2 linked regions of the Homo sapiens genome follow. The protein of the gene in region 2 interacts with the protein of the main gene of each other region in a pairwise test. Each region holds a gene or a part of one and is shown on either strand. Other genes may lie near its edges.

Evidence for each region.
Region 1: the proteins of RDH12 (region 2) and PLEKHA7 interact in binary tests that used the Homo sapiens proteins (3 or more experiments, as listed by UniProt).

Annotation. Positions count from the first base shown.
Region 1 is NC_000011.10:16,818,737-16,822,658, forward strand, and holds part of PLEKHA7 (pleckstrin homology domain-containing family A member 7), read right to left. Parts: intron 1-3,922. UniProt on the Homo sapiens protein: Required for zonula adherens biogenesis and maintenance. Acts via its interaction with CAMSAP3, which anchors microtubules at their minus-ends to zonula adherens, leading to the recruitment of KIFC3 kinesin to the junctional site.
Region 2 is NC_000014.9:67,699,818-67,703,739, forward strand, and holds the start of RDH12 (retinol dehydrogenase 12), read left to right. Parts: upstream 1-2,068; 5' UTR 2,069-2,118; intron 2,119-3,922. UniProt on the Homo sapiens protein: Retinoids dehydrogenase/reductase with a clear preference for NADP. Displays high activity towards 9-cis, 11-cis and all-trans-retinal. Shows very weak activity towards 13-cis-retinol.

The sequences.
Region 1 (3,922 bases), on a different chromosome or scaffold from region 2:
CAAAACTGGATATGACTTCAAAAACTAACACCAACTAGCCATCTTATTTTCTTTCTTTTTTTTTTCTCTCTTTTTTTTCTTTTTTGAGACAGAGTCTTGCTCTTTTGCCCAGGCTGGAGTGCAGTGGTGCAATCTCTGCTCACTGCAACCTTCGCCTCCTGGGTTCAAGTGATTCTCCTGCCTCAGCCTCCTGAGTAGCTGGGACTACAGGCGTGTGCCACCACACCCGGCTAATTTTTTGTATTTTTAGTAGAGACAGGGTTTCACTGTGTTAGCCAGGATGGTCTCGATCTCCTGACCTTGTGATCTGACCGCCTCGGCCTCCCAAAGTGTTGGGATTACAGGAGTGAGCCACCATGCCTGGCCGCCATCTTATTTTCTTCTGGAGTCTCGCTGTTTTGCCCAGGCTGGAGTGCAGCGGTGCAATCTTGGCTCACTGCAACCTCCGCCTCCCGAGTTCAAGGGATTCTCCTGCCTCAGCCTCCTGAGTAGCTGGGACTATAGGTGTGCACCACCACGCCTGGCTAATTTTTGTATTTTTAGTAGAGACGGGGTTTCACCATGTTGGCCAGGCTGGTCTTGAACTCCTGGCCTCAAGTGATCTGCCCCCCTCAGCCTACCAAAGTGCTGGGATTACAGGCATGAGCCACCGCACCCAGCCTCCAACTTATTTTCTGAGAAGGAAAAAAAATTAAGCAAGGGACAAAGTATGGAATTTTACTAAGCCTGAGAGGCAGCATGATGTTGTAAAAAGAGAACAAGTTTTAGAGTCAGACAGGCTTGAGGTCAATTCTGACTCTGCCTTCACCTATCAATTTTATCTAACATTTATTTGGTGCTGATATTGTGCCAGACATTGTTCCAAGCCAACACTACTCAAAGTGTGGCCTGTGTGCCACCAGCATCAGCACCACCTGGGGACTTGTTAGAAATGCACATTAATGAAATAAGCCAGGCATGGAAAGACAAATACCGTGTATGACCTCACTTATATGTGGGATCTAAAAAGGTCAAACTCATAGAAGAACAGAGTAGAGAGGTAGTTACCAGAGGTTTTGGGAGGGAGAGGAGAGATGGAAGAAGAGCTGTTGGTCAAAGGATGCAAAGTTTCAGTTAGGAGGAATAAGTTCTGGTGACCTACTGCACAGCATGGTGACAATGGTTAATAATAATGTATATTTCAAAATTACTAAAAGTAGATATTAAATGTTCTTACCACCAAAAAGGATAAGCAGGTAAGGTGATGAATGTCAATTGGTTTGATGTAATCATTTCATAATGTATACATATATTAAAACATCACATCTACCCCATACATATAATTATTGTCAATTAAAAATAAGATATATTTTTAAAATGCTGGTTATCAGCCCCACCTCAGACCTACCTAATCAGAAACTCTGGGGATGGTGCCCAGGCATCAGTGTCTTAACAAGCCCTCCAGGAGATTCTAGTGCTCTGTAAGGTTTGAGAAACTGTTCTAATTGTTTTAAAACTCAACTCATTTAATCACTTTAGCTATATGACCTCAGGCAAGTATCATCCAGGCCCTCTAAGTCTCACCTTCCTTATTACAAAATGGGGATAGTAAGAACCACTTAGAAAATTGCTGTGAGGATTTGAAATAGTTGTCATTCAAATAAAGCTATCTTTGCCATTACAGTAGATAATTTTAAGATCTCTTCAACCTACTTGTCGTGCCTGCCAAGTGAGTCGGCCTGCCACTAGGTGGCAGGGTTTGCTATCGATCTCCCAAAGTTAGACACAAATGTGCCTCTGAGACGGGGCAGTGCCTGAATCCTCAAAACAGAGGTGGTAGCGGTGGCAGAAACCAGGCTGGAGGCTTCCCCTGGGGAGTTCAGGACTTGACTAACCATTGTTCATTCTGCCAGAAGCAAAATGCAAACTATGCAAAGCATTTCAGAGCTGTGCTCCCACCCATACGCCCTTCCTGCCTGGCTCTGCAGCTCACTCCCCTTGCCTGCCTACAGTGCCTGGAAGGTCAGAGTCCACCCTCACCTCCCCACTGCCCCACTAGCTGCACCTCAAATCCCTAAGCTCATCCTCTAACCTGTACCCTCCATTTACACATAGTCTGCCATTCTGGAATGACCCCAAGGTACCAGTGCAATGGTGAGCCCTGGCTCTAGGGGTCAAAACAAGGTAACTATGGAGGAGGGACACAGGAGGAGGTGGTACTGTGGTTGAGGTATAGACCCCATGCGAGCAAGTGGGTGCTTCCAGAGCAGCTTTGCCCCTAACAGCAGATCCATTTGCTGGCCCCCTAACCTCCGGTCTTACCCAAAAACTGGGCTCAAGGTCTCCTTATACCATGCTCTGTGGCCACAGGGACTCCCTGTCACTGAACAGGCACTAAACAGGATATTCTGATACAGCCATTACAGAAATGGTCATGTGGAGATGCAATATCATTTTTTGCAACAAATTATTATACTTTACTCAGCAGATGTTCCTCACCCTAACTTCCAGATCAATCACACAGGACTTCCATTTTCTACTCTGTTCCTTATTGTAGTGTTTGAGTCTCCTGATCCTAACTCTATCCCTCACCCCAACATTTCTATTTTACAAGTATGCATTACTTTAAACACTGGGAGGTCAGGGTGGGAAAATGAAAGCCTAAAATTTCAAAACAAGCTCTTAAAATACAGTGAGATTCTAAGAGTGTGTCAGTCTGTCTCCCACAAACCATATCCTAAAAAAGTTTAATGTGAAATTTGTATCTCCAATTAGAAATACTTCCCTGTTGGTTTAAAGCCAAAAATACAGGATCATATTGCAGTTCAAATAACCTTCCTCCCAATGTCTTAATGTGCTCAGTCTAATGAGATTAGCAGTCTTGATGATATGCAAAGCAGAGATATCTATCTCATATATTTTCAAATGGAAAATGGAGGAGTTCCTTTATTCAGCACCTAGATCTATTTATGACTAACTGTAAGAGACTACAAATATATCTTTAAGAAAAAAAAAATCTGGGACTATAAGAGGCAGACCTTTTAAAATACAAGAGGATAATCAGAGACTGAGACACTTTGCTCACTTAAAGATTGACAGCATTTTCTGTTCTGTCTTCTGCCTTCAATTCTTCACTTTTATTCACTTTCTAGCCCATTGAGATCTGCTTGCCCTACTGGAATGAAATTCCTCTCACTGTGTGCTCAGTGACCTCTAAAGCCAATGAGCTGTTCTCCTCTACAGACCTGATGTCTCCCTTCCCCTTAGATAAGAATGGCTCAAATCCCCATCTTGCATCCCAGGGAAAGTCCTATGCCCTCCCCACCCACCTCTCATTTCCCTGTTAACTTCTCATCCTTTAGGTCTCTGGTGCACACCCCACTCCCAACTCTCAAATTCAGGCCGTTGTGTGTAGCAGAATAACATGGTTTACAGGCTGCTGGAGCAGTTATGCGGAGACATTTCATAACTGACAACTTATCACTGCATATCAGTCACCCAGCTTTTGAAAGTTTTTTCTGTGCCCCTGCCACAAAGAGTTTCTCACTGGCCATGCCGTCTTACTGATTTCAACCCCTCCTTTTACTCTGCGTCCTGAGCTAACTTTGACCCTGTAGCTCTGTTAAGCATGGTAATTCAGGTTTGCCCATCTAAGCCCATCAAGCAGCTCAGTGGAAAAAGGGTTTCTGTTACTGAGCAAAAGACCCGTGAGGTTCTGGACTTTCCTTCAGGGGTGCCCAGCCTCCTTGAAAGGTACCACATCTCAAGTGTCTGCTTTTGGTAGGGGAAAAAAAAAAAAAAAAAAAAAAAAGGAAAGAAGGCACCACGCCCAGGTGGAAGTCCTTACCTGCAGCACCGTGCACTGCTGACTGGACTCCTTCCAGTTGAAACTCTCCCCAACAAAACCTCCAGTTTTCCTCCCCCATCTTCTCTTCATCTCCTT
Region 2 (3,922 bases):
TAACCTGGAAGACAAACTCAATGAAAAGAATACTTGGATTTAGGCTGGGCGCGGTGGCTCACGCCTGTACTTCCAGCACTTTGGGAGGCCGAGGTGGGCGGATCATGAGGTCAAGACATCGAGACCATCCTGGCCAACATGGTGAAACCCCGTCTCTACTAAAAATACAAAAATCAGCTGGGCGTGGTGGTGCGCACCTGTAGTCCCAGCTCCTTGGGAGATGGAGGCAGGAGAATCGCTTGAACCTGGGAGGCGGAGGTTGCAGTGAGCTGAGATGATGCCACTGTACTGCAGCCTGGAGACAGAGCGAGAAAAAAAAAAAGGATACTTGGATTTAATTAAAATACAGGAAGAGTGTGTCCAGAGTTATGAGTGTACACTATATTTTTGAGGAAAGTAAACAAGGAAACTTGTATCTTAAGCAGGACAATAAATATGTCTCAGTAACAGCATCAAAAGTGCCCTGGTTATAGGAAATAATTTAGCTATATCGAGAAAAGCCAAGACTACAGAATCAAGTTATATTGGAGGAAAATGGTTTTGTTCCAGAGCTTTAAGATAAACATTTTAGCATCAGGCCACACCAGAGTTAGAACCAGAGAAAAAGATTACAGAAGGCCGGGCACAGTAGCTCACGCCTGTAATCCCAGCACTTTGGGAGGCCGAGGTGGGCAGATCACGAGGTCAGGAGATCGAGACCATCCTGGCTAACACGATGAAACCCCGTCTCTACTAAAAATACAAAAAATTAGCCGGGCGTGGTGGCGGGCGCCTGTAGTCCCAGCTACTCGGGAGGCTGAGGCAGGAGAATGGCGTGAACCTGGGAGGCGGAGCTTGCAGTGAGCCTAGATCGCGGCACTGCACTCCAGCCTGGGTGACACAGCAAGACTCCATCTCAAAAAAAAAAAAAAAAATTACAGAAGTTGGCTGGGCATGGTGACTCATGCCTGCAATCCCAGCACTTCGGGAGGCCGAGGCGGGTGGATCAGCTGAGGTCAGGAGTTTAAGACCAGGCTGGCTAGAATGATGAAACTCTGTCTCTACTAAAAATACAAAAATTAGCTGGGCACGGCGGCGAATGCCTCTAATCCCAGCTACTCGGAGGCTGAGGCAGGAGAATCACTTGAACCTGGGAGGCGGAGGTTGCAGTAAGCGGAGATCTTGCCACTGCACTCCAGCCTGGGTGACAAGAGCAAAATTTCATCTCAAAAAAAAAAAAAAAAAAAAAAGTCAAAGATTACAGAAGTTGACAAAAAGGTTGAAGGAGAGGATTATCATTTCAACCAAGAAAAACATGTATCTTTTTAAGGGTATAAAGAACGAACAACAACGATTCATGACTTGGGAATCATGTGCAGCGAGGTATAGCACAAGTAGAATTTTTTGAGATATAAATTTGAGAAGTTTTAGAAAAGAAATAGATTGTAGAATTTAAAATCAAAAGCTCTTGTAATTCACTAAGAGCAAATTTATACTTTAAGACAATGTTATTTTAACATAGAGGACCAAAATCTCAATCTTTAGAAACACTTATAACTTTTTTTTGATTATAGCCAACTTAATCACATATACATTTAAAAAAATTTTAAAGAACTTTATTATAATTTCTTTTTTTTTTTTTTTTTTTTTTGAGATGGAGTCTGTTGCCCAGGCTGGAGTACAGTGTCACTATCTTGGCTCACTGCAAACTCCGCATTCCAGGTTCAAGTGATTCTCCCGCCTCAGCCTCCCGAGTAGCTGGGACTACAGGCATGCGCCACCATACCTGGCTACTTTTTGTATTTTTAGTAGAGATGAGGTTTCACCATTTTGGCTGTGCTGGTCTCGAACTCCTGACCTTGTGATCCGCCCACTTCAGCCTCCCAAAGTGCTGGGATTACAGGCATGAGTCACCACGCCAGGCCTATTATGATTTCTGTAGACTATTTATGACATGTTTGAACTTTTGTTTTGCCCTACCCTTTCTCTTTTATAATTAACCTGTCATTTTGCTTTAGGAAAATAATTTACCATGTAATAAATTATTATCATGCAGTGGCATGATCAGCTCATCGTAACCTCAACTCCTGGGCACAAGCAATCCTCCCTTCTCAGCTTCCTGAGTGGCCAGGACTACAGGTAAGTGCCACCATGCCAGACTAATTTTCAAAATTTTTGTAGAGACAGTATCTCACTGTGTTGTAGAGACAGTGTCTCACTATGTTGCTTAGGCTTGTCTTGAACTCCTGATCTCAAATGATCCACCTGCCTTGGCCTCCTAAAGCATTAGGATAACAGTCATGAACCACTGTGCCCAGCTTTTTTAAAAATTTAATATATATATATTTTTTAAATGGAGATGAGATCTCATTATGTTGCCCAGGCTGGTCTCAAACTCCTGAGCTCAAGTGATTCTCCCACCTTAGGGTCCCAAAGTGCTAGGATTACACACATGAGCCACCATGCCTGGCCTGTGCTCAGTTTTTTAAGTTTTTTTCTATTAACCATTTTTATAGCCTGTGAATGTCAGATATTTACCTAAGCAAGAAATTTAAAGTTAAATACATGGGTATTTTGTTGATAACTCAGAAGGTTTAGCTGTATTTCTTAAACCAACAATATTAAATTAGTCTTACTTATAAAAAAAATCACACAAAGATTATTTTGGTTTTGGCTGGGTTCATAGTTTTTTACCTTTGTGCCAAATCCTGACCCTGTAAAATATTTAATAAGACAAGTATAAATCTGACCATAAATCTAGGCAAATATGTATGTTGACAATTTTGAAGACATTTTAATATTTATTTTACTAATAATTTTAAAGCCAGTTTATTTATTAAAGAATTACTTAAGTCATGTGAACTTGGAAAACCTTTGGGCTTACTAATTTATGAGTGCTCATTTATCTATAAGTCAATTGGGTATCATGTAGATACAACATATAACATATTACATGTATATATGTAAACACATCTAAACACACATATATATGCACAAATAGAGATCTTATACCTTTATTTTTTGATTTGTCTTTTGAAACAGGGCCTCACTCTGTTGCCCAGGGTAGAGAGCAGTGGTATGACCATGGCTCACTGCAGCCTGGACCTCCCAGGCTCAAGTGATTCTCCCACCTCAGCCTCCTGAGTACCTGGGACTACAGGTGCGTGCCGCCATGCCCAGCTAACTTAAAAAAGTTTTTTTTTTGTAGAGTCAGAGTCTCACTATGTTGCCAGGGCTGGTCTTGAGCTCCTGGGCGCAAATGATCCTCCTACCTTGGCCTCCCAAAGTGCTGGGACTGCTGGCATGAGTCACCTCATCTGGCCCTTATAGTTTTCATTTTAGAATTTTAGTCATGAGATAGTAATACAAACTCACCAGTTTATAAAAGATAGTTGGATCTAAATTATTTTTGGAAAAAATTGGGACCTGTTAGTTCACATGGCTAAATTTTATTTGTCCCAATAGGTAATCTAATGAAGGCTGTGAGCCAAAATTTTTGGGTAAGGTAGTTCGATGGCAGTTTTATTTTAAAAATCTTTTATCCTTTTATTCAGTTTCAAATGAGTTTAGAGTTAGGTTTTTAATGTTAACATTTTAGCTTGAACTGGCTGAATCGTATAAGAAAAACAAAATTTCTAAGTCTTCTTAAGTTAGTAATACTATAAACAGTGAGCTTTATCTCAACACAAGTAGAAAAGTCAGTAGTTTCAAAGTAGGCAGAAAAAATATATAGAGGTAGACAGAGAACTTAGACGATCCTACATGTTAACTCTGTAGTTCTGGGTGGACCACTTGAGTTCTAATCTGTCTATTATTTTAAGATGTGCACAACAATGGGCCATAATATGTATCTAGCTGGAGTCTCAGAAAACCCAGTATGTCTTTTTTTATTTTTCCGAGACAGAGTTTCACTCTGTTGCCCAGGCTGGAGTGCAGTGGCATG